2 separate regions of the Homo sapiens genome follow, and region 2 is linked to region 1. The links come from fine-mapping of genetic effects on gene expression. Tissue or cell type: whole blood. Region 1 holds a variant in brackets; the other region holds the start of a gene. All regions are shown on one strand. Distances are between the middles of the regions.

Region 1 (10,727 bases):
GTTGTTTGAGACAGAGTCTCACTCTGTCGCCGAGGCTGGAGGGCAGTGGTGCCATCTCGGCTTATTGCAACCTCCGCCTCCCAGGTTCAAGCGATCCTCCCACCTCACCACAGGCTCACGCCACCTCACCCAGCTAATTTTTGTATTTTTGTACAGATAGGATTTCACCATGTTGCCCAGGCTGGTCTCGAACTCCTGGGCTCAAGCGATCCATCTGCCTCAGCCTCCCAAAGTGCTGGGATTACAGGCGTGAGCCACCGCACCCAACCTACTTTGCTTTTTCAGCAAATTGCTATGGGAGTTAGTCCCATCTCACTACCTAGTGAGCTTCCTCATTCTCACAGCTCTGTGGGGTTTTGTTGTATAGAAAATCACAATTCATTTAAGCAGCCTTCTTTTGATAGAGATTGAGTGGTTTCCAGCCTTTTGCTTTTACAAACAAGCATCGTTTGTAACCTTGTACACACATCTTTTCACTCATGCCTGTGAATATCTATAGGATAAACTCCCAGAAGTGAAGGAGAGCTGGGTTAAAGGGTATGCACATTTGAAATCTTTAGAGATATTGTGAAATTGCTTTCAACATCCTTGAAATGCTCATCCTGAACTTGGGGGGTCTCTGTCCTTTGGTGAGGGCTCTGTTAGCATCTTGGAATTCTCTCCCAGGAAAGTTGAGTCCAGTAAGACATCCCCAAGCTGTAGATATGAGTGGAATATTAGTCTTTTCTCTCCCCTCATGCCATTAACATTCTGGCACACAAGTATTTCCTTTCCGTATGTGTTCCTTAGGAAAGGCAATAGTAGTTCCGAGTGTAGGCTTGAGTCAGATGAACCTTACTTCAAATCCCAGCTCTGCTTCTAACTTGTTATTTGACCTTGAGTAAGTTATTCTATTGTACCAATCCCTAGTTTTATTATCCATAAATGTAGATACGACACCCACCTCATGAACGCTGTGGGATTCAATGCAATAATGCATATAGGGCACAGTGCTCTATAATGGGGAGTTATTGTTAGTAGTATGATACATTGACTTTTTTTGTATCCTGGTTTTTTTCCACTTAAAAATACTTTTTGAGCATTTAACTTCCAACAAGGTGTTGTGGAACAAATCCTCCCTAGTATTCAGGAAGCCTGGCTTCAGTTTCTGCTACTATTGAGTCATGATTTTGCAATTGTCAAATCCTATCAGCACGAAGAAGTACTTGGATTAGAACAGTCAATCTCAAGATGCCCCTTTTGGTTATAAAATTCTACTATTTCATGGAACCATAAAAGACGCGGTGAAGAATTTCCATTCGTATCTTACAATCTACATTCAGCCCCAAATTCAAATGTTCCTCCCCATTTTCAGGAAATACGTAGCCCACATCTGTGACCTCATTCTTTACACCCTCACAATAGCCCCGTGGGCTGCATCTTTTCACATTTATTCTAGAACAGGTTGCTTAGTCCAGGCGGTGTGGGCATGTGAGGACATGTGGAGAAATGTCTTATCTTTAGAAGTTAAACCTTGAGCAAGTTGAGAGGGTGCAGGGAGGGCAGGAGTCACAGGGCCTGGGGAAGGCTAGGCAGCAGCACCAGTGGGCAGAATACCATACTTAGCTTGGAATTGGGAGTTGGCAAGCTGGATGGAAAAAGCAAAGAGAAAATGTAAGAAAGCTTCAGCTAGTCTGGCTTTCATCCCTCCACCCCATGCCTCCCCTGTGGACAGCAGCAGGTCTTCCATGCCCAGATACCAGAAAATTTGCCTGCACTTGGGACCTTGGCCAGGTCGCCAAGAGTAGGAACTTGGTAAGAACTCAGTCAACCAAAGAAGAAGGGAACAGGTTCATACTCCATCTATACATCCCTTCCAGCTTAAACACTCTAAGACTTGACCACTGAGAAGGGAAAGAATGATTTTCACCAGTGCAATGTGCTAACCTTGTTGGATGGAGAAACTGAGATTAAAAGAAGGATGATGCCTGGGGATAGAATAATGGAAATGTATTCCAGGGTCCCTGCCTTAAGTCCAGTTGCTTCAGATCTAGTGGGAAATAGTAATGAATGTGTCTTCATCCTTTCTGACTTCTGATTACTGGATGAGCCCCCACCATATAGTAGTTGGTCTGACACAGCAGTTCCTTCAGGCCCCTGGCCTACTTGGGCTTGTCCTTTTGGAAGTGCTTGGGACATTCCAGGTGGTTGTGGGACCCTGAGCATTGAAGACAATGTGAAGTTTAAGCTGTGTCATCCATGGCTCATCTCATGTTTGTGCTACTATTAGCAAAATTTATCAAAGAACGTTCCAGCTGGCTGCCATAGGGCAAGGAGCGGAGGGTCTCGAGTCCAGTGATAGCACCATTCCTTCTTGCTTCCTATGAGAGCTAGCCAAGGTCTAGGGTTTGGGGGATGAATCTGATTCCTTAGGATAGGGATCACTTATTTATTTAGTCATTCACTCACTCACCATTAATTTAAGCCTAATCTTGGCCCTTGGCATTATCCCATTACTGTGGGTGGCAGTTTCTGTCTATCAAACCAATATTTTCCACCCATAGCATTAAGTATTTTGAAGATAAACCCACAGAACCATTAATCCTGCCTCTTTAACCCCTTCCATCTTAGAAAGTTGAACCATAGGAACAGTTTTCAAAATATAATAAGTATATCTGAATAGGATTGAACCTATTTGAATTTATATTGAATAGGTTTCCTCCAGAAATGCAGCAGGAATTATCTCCATGGCTCAGATTCCCACCACTCACTGCCTCAGACATTCCCAAGGGCATTGAAAACAATGGTTGCTTGCTTTTTCAGAATATTTAAAATTTAAATGTAAACATTTTGGAGCACCTTGTCTGTGCCAAATATAGTCGGAGGCAAATAAGGGTCTAGAGATGAGCCTGCCACCTGTGATGTGTTCAGAACTTCAAGGCAAAGCCAACTTGATACACAAAGTGCGGAGACGAGGCCATGGACATAAGGCCATGGAAAGTGCAGAGACAAGGCTATGGACATAAGGCCATGGATGCCCAGTGAGGGAAAGATCATTCCATGTGAAGAAATGGGGAGTGACTTTTTCAGAGGGCGTGAATTTCAGCTGGCCTCCCAGGAGTGGTAGTTGAGTAAGCCAGTATTTCTCAAACTTGTCTGATCATAAGGATGACCTGGAGTAATTATTACAAATATAGATCCTCAGATCTCTCCCAAGACTTTCTAAATCAAAATCTCCAGAGGAGGAGCTTGGGAATTTGTATTTTTAATAAGAGCCCCAAGTGATTCTTTACATAGAAAATTGATCATTAATATTGAGCATTGACTGTGTGCCAGACACTTCCAAGCACTTTACCTGTGTTGACTCATTTAGTCTTTGAAGCCACCCTGTGAGGTGAGGCTGTTTTTAATCTGCATCTTACAGATGAGGAAAATGAAGCACAGAGATGTTAATAACTGGCTGAGACCTAAGAATACTTGTAGATGAGAGTTTGTCTTGGAGCCTTGGCAGAGAGCAATAGAAATGGAGGGCATAAGGACAAGAGCGCCACCTGCAGGCCATTTGGGGACCTTCTTCTCAGATGGGTTTTAAAGTATGAGTTCTAGCTCCCTCCAGCTGTCACTGGCACAGACTGACCTTCTCCAGTTCAGCCCTTCCAGAAGTGAGTGTGTGTGTCACGTGGCAGAGGCTGTGGTATGCTGGGCCCCACAGTGCATCCCTGTCTCTCTCCTGCAGGGGTCAGTGACAAGATCCACCTAGCCCACCACAGCTTATCAAACGATAAGTAATAAGTGTTGAGCACCTTCTGTGTGTTAGGCATGATACTTTACAAAGCCTCCTACATTCCTAAAAACTCTATGAGGCAGGGATAGATAAGGAAACTGGGACTCAGAAAGGTTAAGCAACTTGCCCAATGTCACACAGCTCATAAAAGGCAGAAGCAGGATTCAAACTCAGCTCCTTTCCTCTTCGTGAGGACTCTCTGTAGGAGAGGAAATACCCTTGCAAGAGGACAGGCCCAGAACCCACCCGGCCTTGTTCAACTGGTGGACCTACAGGCCACTGCAGAAACATGAGCTTATGACTGGGTGACAGAGAGAGACCCTGTCTCTACAAAACATTAAAAAAATTAGCCAGGTGCGGTGGCACATACCTGTAGTCCTAGCTACTTGGGAGGCTGAGGCAAGAGGATCGCTTGAGCCCAGGAGTTCAAAGTTATGTTGAACTATGATCACAGAACTGCATTCAAGCCTGGAAGACAGAGCAAGACCCTGTCTCAAAAGCGAAAGAAAGGAAAGGAAGGAGGAGGGGAGGGGAGGGGAGAAGGAGGAAAGGAGGGAGGCAAGGGAGGGAAGGGAGGAAGGGAGGGAGGGAAGAGAGGGAGGGAGGGAAGAGAGGGACGGAGGGAGGAAGGCAGGCAGGACAGAAGGAAGGACGGAAGGAAGGAAGGAAGGAAGATAGGTAGGTTGGTTGGTTATAGGCCAGGCATGATGGCTTATGCCTGTAATCCCAGCACTTTGGGAGGCTGAGGTGGGATAATCGCTGGAGACCAGGAGTTCCAGACCAGCTTGGGCTCCCCTCCCCTCCTCCTTCCTTTCCTTTCTTTCACTTTTGAGACAGGGTCTTGCTCTGTCACCCAGGCTTGAGTGCAGTTGTGTGATCATAGCTCAACATAACTTTGAACTCCTTGTCTCTACCAAAAAAAAAAAATTGAAGAAGAAAAAAAGAAAAGCAAGCTTACTGATATCTGGGTGCTGCATAAGTTACCAGAGAGATGCTTTAAACTTGCTAAGCAGAGACCAAGAAAGGTGGGTCAGAGGGCTAGGACAGGGGAACAGAGAGGACTCATGCAACTCAGGCGGTGGGGCCATGCATTTGCACTGAAGGGCAATATGCTGATGGCTGAGACCCCGGGGCAGTCCCTAGCAGAGGATGCATGCCTGTGGCTGCAGAAGCAAAGTTCACTAGAAATAGCCAGGATCCAAAGCCTATCCAGTTAGAAAGGATTACACAGCTGGGGTAAGGAAGGGGTCCAAGGGAGACCAGTTAATTATGACTGCAGGGAGTAAACCAATACTATAGGCCTGGCCAGAGTAAGCAAATCTGTCACAGCTGTAGGTATAATGAGTTACAGCCAACTAATTTTAGAAAATTTGCTGAGGCTCATTATTGATGATTGAAGATATTTTTCCGTTCCTGGCTATGCAGAACAAATGCTTGTGGGAACTGTGAGTATTTTGAACTTGAGTTCCCTGTGACTAAAAGACACGGCTAGAGTACAAGAATGTTCCCTTAGGCATGTGTGGTCATTTGAGGGAAAGAGACTGTTTAGAGGTCACTCTTTTTGCTAAGAAGATCATGTCTGGATCTCTGTGTTCACACCCACCTCTGAAACTGCCTAGTGTAGATGCTTCCCTGAGTCCCCAGCAGCTTAGAAGGTGCAGGGCAGGGTTCCCTGATGGGAAACCAGGAGGCCCTGACCCTTCTCCCATGTCGGAGGGTGGGGATTCAGGAATTGCCCATCACCCCCATTCCCTGGGCTTTCCTGCCA[A/G]TTTCTCCTACCCCCAGCCTACCCTGGCCAGACTCCCTGCCAGCCTGGCCTCCATGAGCCTGTGGCCTGACCACCCCGTGCACGTGTTCCCGCAGCGTGTCAGGAGGGGAGCTGTTTGAGCGCATCATTGACGAGGACTTTGAGCTGACGGAGCGTGAGTGCATCAAGTACATGCGGCAGATCTCGGAGGGAGTGGAGTACATCCACAAGCAGGGCATCGTGCACCTGGACCTCAAGCCGGAGAACATCATGTGTGTCAACAAGACGGGCACCAGGATCAAGCTCATCGACTTTGGTCTGGCCAGGAGGCTGGGTAAGGCTCATCTGCCTCTCCCATGGACACCAGTGTGTATTGCACTGGCCGTTTCCTCTCACACTGAGTGTGAGAGGAAACATACAGTATTGGGGTTAAATCCGAGACCATGAAGACTTCCCAGGTTTGAATCCTGCCCCTACCACATACTAGACGTGACAGTAAGCCTCAAATTCCCCATCAGAAAAGTGGGATCATAGTAGGACCTAACTCACAGATTTGTTAGGAGGATCAAATGTGTTAATATAGGTAAAGGGATGGGAAGAGTGCTTTGCACATAGTAAGACTGCTTAGGTGTTAGCTGTATATATGATGATGATTATCCCCTTTTGTTTTTCACTCTGGTGCCATTAGCAGCAAAAGTCATTTTGGTGATGGTGGCTCTGCACATCTGCATCATACTGTACAGTTTCTAGAGCACTTTCACATAAAAAATAAACCCTATGATTCTCACCATGAGGTGAGCAGGGTAGATTTTATGAGCCCCAACTTGTAGACTAGGAAACAAAGGTTCACAATAGCTTTGCCCAGGAGGTCCCACTGTGAGCCAGGGGATGTGCTGGGATTGGAACAAGGACCCCAGACCTTGCTCAGGGTGCTCTGCAGCACCTCTGATTCTTATGCTAGCCAGGAGAGAGGTCACAGGGGTAGGCGGTCAGGGTCTCAAGGCCGCCCTGAAAGCACTTTGGTAGATGCCTGCCTGGCTCACATTCTGCCTGCATCCAGCCTGCCTCTGCAGCCCTTTGATGTCCCGGTGATTGAGGAAACAGCTTCATCCTCCCTTCTTAGCCACTGCCCTGCTAGCAAGGAGCCCGAGGGCTGGGGTGAGCTGGCTTTATTTCACCACCCTGCAGGTAGTAGAAAGGAGGGGCCAAATGAATGCCACCCAATAAATGTCTCCCACGATGTTCAGTGCTGGCTGAGGCTGTGTTGGTCATAAAGAGGAAAGGGGTAAGCAGGGGCGAGGTTCCGATAGACTATGACCGGTCTGGTGGTCAGCGCAGTCAGGTGAGAAACATGCCTCGGCGCTGGGCGCATGTGCCTGCTCTGCTCTGCTCACTCCTGCTAAGAGGACAGGGTAGGGGCAGTGGCTGGCATACAGGGCCTGCCTTTGAACAGTGACCACCAATAAATTAAACAAATAGGCCACTGTCCTCAGGAGTCGGCAGTGTCAGAGCCCAGGGAACACAATGTCCAGCTTCCACTGGTGAGGGATACTGTGGGAACAACCGTGTCCACCAAGGACCAGATAACTGAGAAGTGGCTAAAATGTAGCAGAAAGGGCTGAGAGGCAGGAATTGGAGCAGAGCTTTCACATCTGAGGGCTGTTAAATGCTTTGTTTTAGAACATTTGCTGTGAGCTCTGCGAAGTTAAGCAAGACCAGGCATAGCCCACAGGTACCTGCCTTTTGCACATATTAACAGACATCTCTGGTCCTTTATGGCCAAGAGGTACCACCCTGGGGTTGAAGCCTCTCCCGACTACCCTACCAGTAGCTCCTGAAGGACAGCCATGAAGCTGTGTGAGGAGTAGGAGAGGCAGGAGGGAGGAACGGTGGTAAGCATGGCTCAGGAGTTGGACTACCTGGGCTTGAGTCCCGACCACCACTTGTTAACCGGGTGGGGAAATCACTGCACTTCCCTGGGCCTCACTCATGTTCTCAGTAGCACGGGCATTATACCTACCCCTTGGGGTGGGTGAGAACCCTTGTAAAGCTGCCGGTGGGGTACATAGGACATAGTGAATGCTAGAGATTATTATTAAGCATAAGTCACAGTCCCTGCCTAGGGGAACTAACTCATGAGACAGACTCACAAAAAGACCATTCAGGGGCGGGTGATTTAGCGGCCTCTTCTCCCCCTGCCCACCCTGCACAGGACATTTGAGGTGAGTGTGAGGTTTGTTGGTTTCACTGGTGTGTTGACGCACCTGTTTAACAAGGAGGTCAGATGTCTCTGTGCCTGTTCTCTGTGCCAAAGCCTGTGTCTGGCCCCTCCCAGGTTGGGGTCAACACACAGATTCGGGCAGCTGCTGGTCTCAAGCTGGCTCCGTGATGTGCTGGCAATTTATCCCTCTCCATCCTGGTTTCAGAGAATGCGGGGTCTCTGAAGGTCCTCTTTGGCACCCCAGAATTTGTGGCTCCTGAAGTGATCAACTATGAGCCCATCGGCTACGCCACAGACATGTGGAGCATCGGGGTCATCTGCTACATCCTGTGAGTCCTGGGGCACTTGGTGGACTGGTGGACCACTTGGTGGACCAGTGGGTGGGGGCTGAGGGTTCCACAGGAGGGTCCCCAGGCTGCCCTGCCATTGTCATGATGGGGAGCCCCCCCCAGAGTCAGGAGGGTGGCAGGCTCCCCTCCTATCCCTGGCAGCCCACCCTGCTCCTGGGCTCCCAGGGAGTCAGTAGCATGCATATTCTATAGCATCATGTAGCTACACATGCTAAGATCCCCATTCTGGGTGCTCACTGTCCCCAAGGCTGGCCAGCCTGGGGCCTTTGGTCAGGAGGGTGGGAAATGTGGCTGGCACCAAGTAATAAAACCTCACTTGTGTGGGTCCACAAAGAAGGAGGGCAGGAGGCCAGGGGCGAATCTCTGGGCATCCTCATTGTCTTCAGGGCATAGCACTCCATCCCCAAGGCACGGGGACCCCAACTACTAGCCTCATCTTTGAGTCTAGTATATGGATGAATTAATAAACACTATTGATGATCGAGCCTTCAATGGGACTAACAGATAAAAGAAAGTAACACAGTAATTAGAACTGAAAAATCAGGTGGGAAATCCAAAGCCATTTCAATGAACAATAATGCAGGAGAGGGGAGGCCAGCCATCTAGGCCGGCACTTCACAAACATTAGCATGCCTGACTCACCTAGGCGGCTCCTTACATTGCAGGGTTTTTGTTCAGGTCTGGGTGACCTGGAATGCCACATTTCTAACAGGCTCTAGGTTTGTGAATGTGCTGGTTCAACGACTGCGCTCTGAGTAACAAGGCTTGAGAACACTCTGTCGGTGGGGTCTGGCTGCTTTAGTCCCTGAAGCCCCAGGGTGCGGACGGTCATTAGCCCCTGAACCTGTGTGGCCACATGCAGTTATGGGATGGTGTCCCCAAAGATGCAGATGTGTATGCTTTCATTCAATAATGTTTTTACTGTCAGAACAAAAGGAAAAATTTAACATTTTCATAGAAAATGAGGAAGACCTCTATGAATACTTTCTTAGACCCCTGGGGCCTTCAGACTCCAGTGTGAGAGAAGGTTCTGGGCGATTCTGATGCATAGCCAGGTTTAGAAACCAGTGTTATAAAAGCTTTAGCAGAAGTGGTGTGAATTTTGTGCAATGTGACTTTTTCACATGCTCAGGAACTTTACTCACTATAGCCTGTTAGGACAGTCCCCTCAGTGGAACCTGCACCACAGGCATTGTAGTCCAGACAGTTATCCTCTTTCCTGCCTGGGATTAGCCCCACCACCACAGCCTTCCCCAGATCAGCAGAAAAACCCCGGGCCAGGTGTGCATTTCCCTGCCTGTTTCCCTGCCCCGCCCCCTCTTGGAGAAGGGGCGCTGACAAGTGAAGACAGCAGCTGGACTGGAGCTTGACTCCCTGGCTCCCTAGATAAGTAAGGAACAGCAGGGTAGGGGGCGGGGCCAGCCTGCCCCTTTCAGGGCGGCCCCAGGCCTGGGCAGTGCTAACCTCTGGCCCTGGGAAAAACACCAGACCCTTGAGAAGCAGTCCTTGGTCAGCTCTCACTGTTCAGCCCCAGCTGCGCTGTGGTCTCGCTTGGTCCCAGGGTCCCCCTCCAGCCGTCATGGAGACTTGCCTTACTGTTTATTCTTCAGTGGGTTTTCCCACTGCCGTGGCATCAGGATCTTCTGCAGCTACAGATTTTCACATAGGACCTTGTTTGATGCTCACAACAAACCCAAGAGTGGATCATGGCAGGGATTCCATCTTCATGTGGCGTTGAGGTGACAGGGGCCAAGGAAGCCCACGTGGCTGCCCACTTCCCACAGTCGGGCCAGGGGACCAGTCGTCCCAGTCTGCCAGGATACAGGACTTTTGGTGCTAACATGGGAACAGTCCCAGGCAAACCAGGACAATTGGTCTCTCTACTGGTCAGTGACAGAGCAGTGACTAGACTGCTCACTAAGTTTTCACCTGTGTAACCTCTACCCGGATCAAGAAACCAAGCACTGCCAGGCCCCCACAGCCCTCTGGCACCCCTCCCTGTTACCAACCCCCAGAGGTCACCATTACCCTCAAGGCTAATGTCAATGAAATCATACAGAAAGAAGTGTCTGGCTTTTTTTGCTTGACATCGTTTGTGAGACTCATTCATAGTACTATGTGTCATTGTAGACTGTTTATTCTCAGTGTTATGTAGTATCCCATTGTGTGAATATAATCCAGTTAATTTATCCGTTCTGCTTTGATAGGCTTTTGAGTGGGTTCCAGTTTGGCCATTGGAAGCATTCTGGTTCACGTGTTTCAGTGAATATATTTGTACATTTCTGTTGGATATATAATCTAGAACTAGAATAATTGGGTCATAGGGCACTTTATTGTCAAATGAGAGTTCTTTTCGGTGGAGGAACATAGTAATTTGGGCACTATGTTACCTTGTTTACCAGATTACTTTTAAAGCAAAGACCAAGAACTAGGGCAGAGTTTTGGAAATGGGGAGAAGATAGTTTTGATGCTGCCAGTGCTTGGGCAGAGGGTTGTCAGGAGGGAGGAGGGGTGTGTGTGTGGCAAGGACCCAGGCCAGGTGGCACTGACTCAGGCTGGATCAATCCTGTGCCACATCTTAGCTCCTGGACCCCCACTGTGAGCCACTGCCCTCTGGGGCTTTTCCAGCCTGGCTCTCTCAGCATG
Region 2 (10,727 bases), 54 kb after region 1:
AAGTTGGGAACTTCCTAGAGAATTGTTGAATGATTTTGACCAAAATGCTGATAGTGATATGGACAATGAAGTCCAGGCTGAGATGGTCTTAGATGGAGACGAAGAACTTATTGGGAACTGGAGCAAAGGTCACTCTTGCTATGCTTTAGCAAAGAGACTGACAGCATTTTGCCCCTGCCTTAGAGATCTGTGGAACTTTAAACTTGAGACAGATGATTTAGGGTATCTGGTAGAATAAACTTCGAAGCACCAAAGCATTCAAGATGTCACATGGCTTTTTCTGAAAGCAAACGGTCACATGCGTTCACAAGGAGATGATCTGAAATTGGAACTTATGTTTAAAAGGGAAGCAGAGCATAAAAGTTTGGAAAATTTGCAGCCTGACCATGCAGTAGAAAACAAAGACCCATTTTCCAGGGAGATATTCAAGCAGGCTGCAGGAATTTGCACAAGTAACAAGGAGCTGAATGTTAATAGCTGAGACAATGGGGAAAAATGTCTCCAGGGAATTTCAGAGATCTTCAGGACAGCCCCTCCCATCACAGACCTAGAGGCCTAGGAGGGAAAAATAGTTTCCTGGGCTAGGCAGGCCCAGGGCTCTACTGCTGTGTGCAGCCTCAAGACATGGTGCCCTGTGTCCCAGCCACTCCACCTCATGGCTAAAAGGGGCCAAGGTACAGCTTGGGCCATTGCTTCAGAGGGTACAAGCCCCAAGCCCTGGCAGCTTTTATGTGGTGTTGGGCCTGCAAGTGTGCAGAAGCCAAGAGTTGAGGTTTAGAAACCTATGCCTAGATTTCAGAGGATGTATGGAAATGACTGGATGTCCAGTCAGAAGTCTGCTGCATGGGCGGAGCCCTCATGGAGAACCCCTACTAGTGCAGTGCAAAAGGGAAATGTGGGGTTGGAGCATCCACACAGAGTCCCCACTGGGGCAATACCTAGTGGATCTGAGAATAGGGCCACTGTCCTCCAGACCCCAGAATGGTAGATCCACCAACAGCTTGCACCCTGGACCTGGAAAAGCTTCAGGCACTCAACTCCAGCCCATGAAAGCAGCCTTTGGGACTGTACCCTGCAGAGCCACATGGCAAGAGCTGCCCAAAGCCTTAGGAGCTCACCTCTTCAATCAGCATGCACTGGATGTGAGACATGGAGTCAAAGGAGAGTATTTAAGAGGTTTAATATTTAATGACTGCCCAACCAGGTTTCAGACTTGCATGGGGCCTGTGGCCCCTTTGTTTTGGCCAATTTCTCCCATGTGGAATGAGAACATTTACCCAATGCCTGTACCCCCATTGTATCTTGGAAGTAACTAACTTGTTTTTGATTTTACAGGCTTGTAGGTGAAAGAGACTTGCCTTGTCTCAGATCAGACTTTGAACTTGGACTTTTGAGTTAATGCTGAAATGAGTTAAGACTTTGGGGTACTGTTGGGAAGGTATGATTGGAATAGCATGTGCAAATTCCCTGAGGCAAAAAAGGAGTACTGCTCGATGGAAGACCTAAGATGAGGCCAGTATGACTAGGAGGGGCATGGTGAGACTGAGGAGGCAGGTAGGGTCTAGTCTATGCAGATTTTTGTATACCATATTAAATATTTTATGCTTTATCCTAAGTGTCATCAAAAGCCATTTAAATATCTTCAGGGGTGGGGCAGAGGAAGGTAGTAGACACGAACAAGGTTGTATGTGGAAAAGATCACTTTGGCTGTACTGTAGAGCAGGGGTCCCCAACCTCTGGGCCACAGACTGGTACAGGTCCATGGCCTGTTAGGAACCCAGCCACACAGCAGGAGGTGAGCAGCAGGCAAGTGAGCATTACCACCTGATCTCCACCTCCTGCCAGACCAACAGCGGCATTAGATTCTCATAGGAACACGAGCCCTATCATGAACCATGCAGGCGAGGGATCTAGGTTGCAGGCTCCATCTAATGCCTGCTGATCTGAAGTGAAACAGTTTCATCCTGAAACCATTCCCTCCCCAGTCCATGGAAAAATTGTCTTCCATGAAACCAGTCCCTGGTGCCAAAAAGGTTGGAGATTGCTGCTATAAACAACAGACTGGAGTTGGGCCTAAGTGACTGCAAGAAGATACATTGAGTTTTAAACTGATTTCCAACTGAACAGAACTTTATGCATTCCTGCCTCCTCCTACTTTCCCATTAAGTAGATTATATTGAAAAAAAAATCAGTCAAATGAATGAAAGAAGCTTTTAGATGAATGATTATTTGGTTTTGTAAAATGGTTCACTTCTTTATTTCTTTTGCAAAGAAATTTTTTTGCCCTCTGATCACAGTGTGCAATTTGGGCTCACCAACTTGCTCTTTGAAAAATTCAGGAAGGTCGGGTGTGGTGGTTCATGCCTATAATCCCAGCATTTTGGGAGGCCGAGGCAGGTGGATCACCTGAGGTCACGAGTTCGAAACCAGCCTGGCCAACATGGCAAAATCCCGTCTCTACTAAACATACAAAAATTAGCTGGGCGTGGGGGCAGGCACCTGTAATCCCAGCTACTTGGAAGGCTGAGGCAGGAGAATTGCTTGAACCTGGGAGGCGGAGGTTGCAGTGAGCCAAGAGTGTGCCATTGCACTCCAGTCTGGGGGACAAGAGCAAGACTTCGTCTCCAAAAAAAAAAAATTTCAGGAAAACAAGGCAACAGAATCTCTGAACAATCTGCCATGGCGGGAAAGGATGGGACCCTGACAATTGTCAACTTATGCCTCTCACTTCATCTCTTGAGGTCTTGAAACTTCTTTTGCAAAAATTGTAACAGTGAGAAAATTATGACTGAGAGAGATCTGATCTAACCAGCCCCCACCTTGACTCTGTAAATCAAAGAACACGATCAAGGCAAGTCTCAATCATTTTAGGAGGTTTATTTGCCATAGTAAAGGATGCATGCCAGGGAGGCAGGTATATGCCTATCTCCAAAGATGATTTTGAGGGCTTCAGTACTTAAAGGGGAAAGGGTGGATACTGGGGGAAGAGAAATTTTTTTTTTTTTTTGAGACAGAGTCTCGCTCTGTCACCAGGCTGGAGTGCAGCGGCGCAATCTCGGCTCACTGCAACCTCCAACTCCAAGCGATTCTCTTGCCTCAGTCTCCCAAGTAGCTGGGACTACAGGCGCGCACCACCACACCCAGCTAATTTTTGTATTTTTAGTAAAGATGGGGTTTCACCATACTGGCCAGGCTGGTCTCAAACTCCTGACCTCCTGATCTGCCTGCCTGGCCTCCCAAAGTGCTGGGATTACAGGCGTGAGCCACCACGCCCAGCCAAGAAATATTTTTAAATTGTGTCAGTAGATAAAAAGATAAAACAGTTGCATCCTTTTGAATACACAATTTTCATGTGAGTGGGGAGTGGAGGAAATATTCATGCCTTAGTCTGGCTCAGTTAATCTGTATTTTTACATAAGATAACGTAGACAATAGGGCAGAGGAAGCAATCAGATATGCATTTGTCTCAGGTGAGGAGAGGGAAGACTTTGAATTCTGTCCTATGTCCCATACCTGTGAAGATATCAACTTACATTGCCAGGTTGAAATTCAACAGAACTGTTTTAGAGTAAAGATCTTTGGGCCTAAAAGGAATTTCCTTGTGGGTAAAATGTGAGGGAAGTATATAGCTTTTATCTTTGTAGCTATCTTATTTAGGAACCAAATGGGAGGCAGGTTTGTGTGACCCAGTTCCCAGCTTGACTTTTCCCTTTGGCTCAGTGAATCTGGGGTTTTCCTTTCTCATCTTTAACCTCCAAAACTGCCCTTGGTCATTCCTGGGCTTGCACCAAGCTAACTTTGGGAGAAACTTAGTTTACAGTTTAAGCGATAATAGCCCCTCCCCAAAACTAAACCACTTTTGTAAAACTAATGAAAAGCCACCAGGTTAGAAGGATAAGAGGAGCTTGAATTCTGCTAAGACATAGGCTTTGTTAAGTTAAATGATTACCAGCCACTATTCCAGAGGTCACTAGATTTGCAGCTTCCCCAGTTCACTACTGTAGAACCTAAGATTGGCCTTTTGAGATAAACTTTCAGGCTTCTGCATTTCGGATGGCTGACGACCCCACTGAGACCTTTGACTCTTGGCTCAACCAGTCCTGTGGCCTCCACCCAGAAGCAGGCTCAGTGCAGGGGGACCATTTTCCACACCCCTATAATTGCATTCCCAACCAATCAGCAGCACCCATTCCTCCAGCCTCCTGCCTGCCAAACTGTGTGTGTGTTGGGGGGGGGGTGGGTGTTTTGTTTTGTTTTGTTTTGACTATAGCTCTCAGATCTTAGCCAAACTATTCTTGAAAAACCCTACCCTCTGAATTTTGGGGGAGATTTGGAGTAATAACTCCATCTCCAAGACCTATCTCATGTCAATTAAATTCTTTATTGCAATGCCATGGTCTCTATGAATTGATTTTGTCTGTGCAGTGGGAAGGAAGAACGTATTGGGTGATTACAGTGTCATGGATTTAAATACCACCACCACCCTCAGAACTCTGAGAAAAGATAATACCTCAAACAGCTCTGAGCTGTCTGAGCTATGTGAAGTATGCAAAAATTTATCAGGCCCAGAGACAAGAGTTTGCCTGGGGGCAACTGTTTAGACATTTTGTTCCTGACTAGCAGCCTCACCCATTATCTTCATGTTCCTGGAATCTGTGATACAAAGAATAGTTTATAGCCAATCAATAGCTAATGTAATTTTAATGTAAATTCTTAGTAAACAACTTAGAAGCTGCCTCTTTTTCCTTTAAAAACCCACTCATAACCGCTGCTAATCAGAGTGTATATTTAGGGTAACTTGAATCTATGCTCCCAGGTAGCCATCTTCAACCTTTATGCTTGAATAAACTTCCTTTAAACTAGATTCTTACCTTTTTTATTATTTTAGGTTGACAACTCTCAAATTTATATCTCTAGCCCATTGGACTTCCTTCCCGAACCTCAGGGTCTAAATTTAATTGTCTATCCAGCCTCTCCACTTGGATGTTTAATAAGGATTTCAAATTCAACATATAAAAAACAAAATTCCCGACTTCCGCCTTAAAAATGGTTTCTTACAAGTTGCTCAAAACGCCTTTGACCTCACACTCCAAAACTAACATATCCACAAATCTTATAATTCTACTTCTAAAATACGCACAGAATTCATTGTTGTTTTCATCACCTCGATTTCCACCACTCTGGCCCACACCACTATCACCATGGCTGGATTATTGTAATAACTTCCTGATACCACTTTTCACCAACTAATACGAGCATTTTCGTCTGGTTCCCTCAGGGGTCCTTAAGCCCCAGGCTGCGGATAGAACCAATCCCTGGCCTGTTAGGAACCAGGAGGCACAGCAGGAGGTGAGCAGCAAGCAAGGGAGCATTACCTCCTGAGCTCCGCCTCCCTCAGATCAGCGGTGGCATCAGATTCTCATAGGAGCGGGGAACCTATTGTGAACTGCGCATTGGAGGGATCTAAGTTGTGTGCTCCTTATGAGAATCTAATGATAAATGTAATGCCTTTGAATCATCCTGAAACCATCATCCACCCCCCCACCACGAAACCGGTCCCTGTTGACCAAAAGGTTGGGGGCCGCTGCTCTATATAATCCCTGGGAGACTGACGACTTTGTCTCTTTCACTTAGTGCCATGAACTCCAGGGCAACTTTGTGGACGCTCCATAAACACTTGCTGGAATGAACCCATAAATATTTTATACTACCACATATACAGTAATACATTTAAGGAGCTGCTTGGGTGTGTAAAAAATTGCAGGGGACGTTTACAAATAAAGAACCTCCTGAAACAAAGCAATGAATGGAAAGTGGGATCAGCTGGTTGAAGCAATGCCCACAAGCTGCTCCAGCTTCCCAAAGCAGAGAGGTTTTCCACCTAAGCCAACATCCTTTTATTTTTAGTCACTATAGCTATAAATCTACTCCCTTACCCCGCACCTCACTCTCAGCCGACAGCCCAATGGGCTTATCCTCCTCTCGCCCTCACGATGAGCGAGTCCACGCGGTCTCAGGCTGGAAGATGCACTTGAACACCAGCCAAGCACTCACGGACGACACTGGATTCTAGGCCGCCTGGGCTTCTCCACTGTACTAGGAATGTAAAATCAAAAGTCAGAAAGAAAACTTCGGAGGTGGAATCTCCAACCCGGCAACGGGTTAGGAAGCAAAGCGCACCTACCAAAGGGCTGGTCCCTGCAGCCTCAAGGGCTGATGGGAAGTGAATCCACCGTCAACCGCCCTGATCCAAAATGGCAGGATACCGGAGCAATAGTGTTCAGGTGTGAAGATAGGGCAATTGAAGAAGGGAGAACGAAAGCATAATTGTTTTGATTCAACATGGAAGCAGTGATTATAGGAGGGCGAATAGCGAGGGACGACGCAACATCCAGCTGGCAGAAGCAGCGGGCCTGGAGAGGGTGGCTACATTGAACTAATCCAAGATGGCGCCGAGGTTGTAACCGGGAGCGCCCAAGAGGCGGGAATTACCCTGATCCAAGATGGCAGTGGCAACTGAGGCAAGCCGAAAGACGGGAGCGCCAGGAGCGTCTTTGCCCTCAGCCAAGATGGCGGCTGCCGTGGACCCTGTCCCGGCTCCGCCCCGCGGCCCTGGCCCCGCCTGCCCCTCGTCCCTTCCTCCGCCCCCTCTCCTCGCGTAGTCCGGCCCGAGCCGCTCGCGCTAGGAGAGCGGGCTTCGGGCACTTGACATGGCGGCAGTGGCGGCGACTGCAGCAGCGAAGGGGAATGGGGGCGGCGGTGGCAGGGCCGGGGCCGGGGACGCCAGCGGCACGCGGAAGAAGAAGGGCCCGGGGCCCCTGGCCACGGCGTACCTGGTCATCTACAATGTGGTGATGACAGCCGGGTGAGGCTGGGGCTCGGGGAGGCGGGGAGCCAGCGCGGCCGGGGAGGGAGCCCTGCGGCCAGCGGCGGGGCGGATAGGATCGGCGCGGCCCGCCGCAGGCAGTGCATTCCCGGCGGGGGGTGCCCGGGACCCGGTACCTGGGCGCTGAGGGCGGCCGAGCGCTGAATCGGCCCCGGTGGCTGCCCGCGAGCTCCCTCCTGCGCTGGGGGTCGAGCCAAGTTCCCAGGCACTGGGGCGCGGGGACGGCTGCCGGGCGCTGGCTCGCGAGGGCCGCGGGAGGAAAGGTGGGGCTGGCCACAGGTGCGGGGCCGGGGGCAGCGGCCGGACTACCTGCGGCGCGGAGCCCGTCCTGGGCGGCCAGATTCGGATGTTGAACGGCGCCAGCATGGGGAGTGGAGGAGCTGTGGCTGCAGAGTGACCATTCATTTGGGCGGCTGTTTTCAAAATCTGGGCTGCGCTTTAATCTGAAAGGTATTGGGAAAGCGTTCAAAGTTTTTGGCCAGCGACATGAGCAGAGCTAGGCTTTAGATGAGTTTAGACTTTTAGGATGGGTTGGGGTGGGGAAGAAACTGGGGAGTAGAAGGCAGAGTTACTGGAAAGGGGGAGAATGGACCCTCGAAACGGTTTTACCCATCTTCTGTCTCTTTCATTTCAGTGCATCCCTTATCCCGGCGGGTTTTTAGTTCAAGCTCTGCCACTAACTAGCTGTGTGACTTTGGATAAATCATCTTATTTCTCTAGCCTCCGTTTTTTCATTTGTAAAACTAAAGGGTTGGTCTGGGTGATGAAGGTTCCTTCAGCTCTGCAATTCTTTATCTTGTCATTTTGGTGAGGAGGATCACAGCATCAGACAGTTATATATTTTTAAGTTATCTTCATTTGTAATTTTTTAAGAAGTCCTAACATTTTATTATGAAAAATTTCAAACATACAGAAGAGTTGAAAGAATTGTATAGTGAACATCCATTTTTATTTAAAGTAGGTGATACATTGTTAGGGTTAAAAATGAAAAACATGAGGGAATACAGTGAAAATCTTTCCTCCCACCTTTCCCTTCTACCCAGCTCCCCTCCCTCGAGGCAGTTAATTTTGTGTATCCTTAAGATGCTGATGCAAGCAAATATGTTTATACATCCCCCTATCCCTTTTTAAAATAAGACAAATGCCAATATATTAATATTTTTACAGTTCAGCACCTTGCTTTTTTTTCACGAAGAAGAAAATATATCGTGGGAGGATCATATATGTATTGCTAGTATTAGAAATGGTAGGTGTTGGAACCTAGGCTCAGAGAAGTTGTGACTTGCATGAGATCATAGAACTTGTTAGTAGAAGTTCCAGATCTAGAAATCATTTCTCTTGACTCACAGGTCAATGAAGAACTAGTACAGATACAAGCTTTATATCACATCAGTGGTCACATAGATTGATTTTTAAAAAAACATCCAGGAATCTCACTGTGTGTATTAATATTTATATATAAAATTCTTGTTGTCTTAGCAAGAGCCGGTGAGGGCATTGGACTGGAGAGGGATTTTGAGGTACATTGGTAAGAAGAAAGAAGTCTATTCCTGAGCAATGAACATAGAGAATGGGGTGGAGGGTAAGGAGTGGTATCTTAAACCAGGAAGATAAATTGGGATTGTGAGAGCAAAGTAAGCTTTTTTTTTAAGGCTGTTAATGGTTGTACCAGTTACACCATTAAATAATTTCTTCTTTTACAAACTCTTACTTGATGTCCTTATGTGATAGTTTTTGGAAATAGCATAGACCACACACACCCCATTGCCTAGTTGATACTATACATTTATCTAAATCCTTCCAGGAGACATACCTTAATAAAAAGGTCCATTTGTTTTATTATGGAACTTAACAAAACATTGTGTTTATTTTTGAGAAGGACAGTGGAACAAAAATATAACATTCACAGCTGTATGCTTAAGTGCTTTCCTGTTTCGTGGTTTGTATTGATCTGGCTTTCATTTCTGCATTGATTTTAGGAAATTTGGCTAAAAAACTTTTTTTTTTTAGCAAGAGCCCTTTATTCGTAATTTTAAAAGGATAGATTTTAAGGTATGGGTAATTGTTCCAGTGAGACAATTATAACAATAGTTTAAAGCATCTTCTTTCCACCCTGTAATTATTAAAAACCCTTTAACTGCACAGGCTGTTTAAAATTTTCCTTTAACTGTTTTTTTCTCGTCTTAGATTTTCTTGGCACCTGATTTAGTGGCACAAGGACCATTTTAGCTTATTCCTTTCCTTTTGGCCTTGATCTCAATAGCAAAGTTGCCAAAAAAATGAGCTCCAGATGGGTGAGGTGCCACTATGCTTTCACTGAGCCCTCTTGGTAAGGTGCTGTCGGTGTTGCAACATTTCAGTGCATTACAGCTTGGCATTTGAGAGCTATCGTCCATAAATCCAGGTTACTCATGCTTGAGGTCACCTTTAGCAATATCTTTTATTGCCACAGCTGTGTGTTAACCTAAATGCTACTTTTTTTATTTTTATTTTTTCCTGATTGCTGTTTTCTCTTTTACTAGGTGGCTGGTTATAGCGGTTGGTCTGGTCCGAGCATACCTGGCTAAGGGTAGCTACCATAGCCTTTATTATTCAATTGAAAAGCCTTTGAAATTCTTTCAAACTGGAGCCTTATTGGAGGTAGGTCCTGAGATTTATTGTTGTTATTGATTTCCATTGGTATGAAGAAAAACATGCAACTAAATTATATTGAAGTAGCATACCCCCTTTGGATTCATGTTAAATTTTGAAATTTTGCCTCCTCACATACTAAAGTGTTGATACCTAGGCTTTTTGATGTTCTAGATTGGGTAGAATCTCATTTAACTTAGGTTACCTTGAATGTATTTTATATTCGACTTTTTTGGGAAATCAACTGAAGCAAGCTTATATTAGGATTTTTAAAAATTCTAGGGACATCCTGGGGAAGCACTGGCAAAATCAGATGCTTTCAGGGTTTATGTAATAGAAATAGTGAAGTTGGTGGGTGTAGGATATTGGAAGTGATAGATAGAAGACATAATAGAGAGCCTGTCTAGAGGCGTCCAAATTTTAAAAATTTAACAAAAATGTATTGATTTCCCTGCATTAAGGGCAATGTATATCCAGCCCTCTCTCTTGGGGTAAGTATAGATTAGGATTTTGGAATTGCAAGGGACAAAAACCCAATTCAAACTATTTTAAGCAAAAAAGGAATTTTCTGGCCTCTGTAGTTGATACAGATACAGGATTAATTTACAAAGAAACTAGCTCAGGAATGAGAACCAAGGAGCTGACACTGCCAGATTCTCTTGCTTTCTCTCATTTCTGCTTGTCTGTTTCTCTTTGAATGTTGGTCTTGGGCTCTCCACATGGTGGGAAACAGGGAGGGTGTTTATTTTTCGCAGCATCTGTGTCACACAGTTCCCAGAGAGGATTCTGGTTGGCCCTACTTAGACTATGCCAGTGATGTGAGGTGCTTGATTAGCCAATCTTAGGACACATGCCCATTCTTCTGTCCAAGGGACTATAGACTTTGCTTATGGAAAAGAGGGATGGGGATAGCTTTGGGCACACAAAATCAATAGCCGCCATAGTTCGTATATTTCATTATGGTGAAAAACCTTCAGATTGCAGGGAAGATCTGGTTCATTTTGCTTAGCCTCCAGGCAAGACCATCATAACATTTATACTTTACTGGCAACTTTTAAAACCTGAACTATGGAATGATACTTAAGAAAAAATCATTTATCTCGCTGGGCACGGTGGCTCACGCCTGTAATCCCAGCACTCTGGGAGGCCGAGGCGGGTGGATCACGAGGTCAGGAGATTGAGACCGTCCTGGCTAACACAGTGAAACCCC

What was found.
Region 2: it holds the start of MYLK-AS1, and the variant in region 1 is fine-mapped to the expression of MYLK-AS1 in whole blood (TOPMed, PIP above 0.99).

The regions. Positions count from the first base shown.
Region 1 is chr3:123,635,404-123,646,130 of GRCh38, reverse strand. MYLK (myosin light chain kinase) reads left to right here. Exons shown (of 34, transcript NM_053025.4): 28 at 5,627-5,844; 29 at 7,937-8,060. Among named protein-coding and RNA genes, the nearest start is that of MYLK-AS2, 49 kb to the left of the region's middle. RefSeq lists an enhancer at 9,523-10,184 and a silencer at 10,515-10,727. The variant A/G (reference allele first, on the strand shown) is at 5,532.
Region 2 is chr3:123,581,011-123,591,737 of GRCh38, reverse strand. MYLK-AS1 (MYLK antisense RNA 1) reads right to left here and starts at 6,225. Exons shown (of 4, transcript NR_121654.1): 1 at 6,185-6,225; 2 at 5,937-6,091. HACD2 (3-hydroxyacyl-CoA dehydratase 2) reads left to right here and starts at 6,685. Exons shown (of 7, transcript NM_198402.5): 1 at 6,685-6,865; 2 at 9,409-9,526. The coding sequence starts at 6,711. RefSeq lists silencers at 710-910, 6,561-7,170, 7,181-7,360 and an enhancer at 6,201-6,500.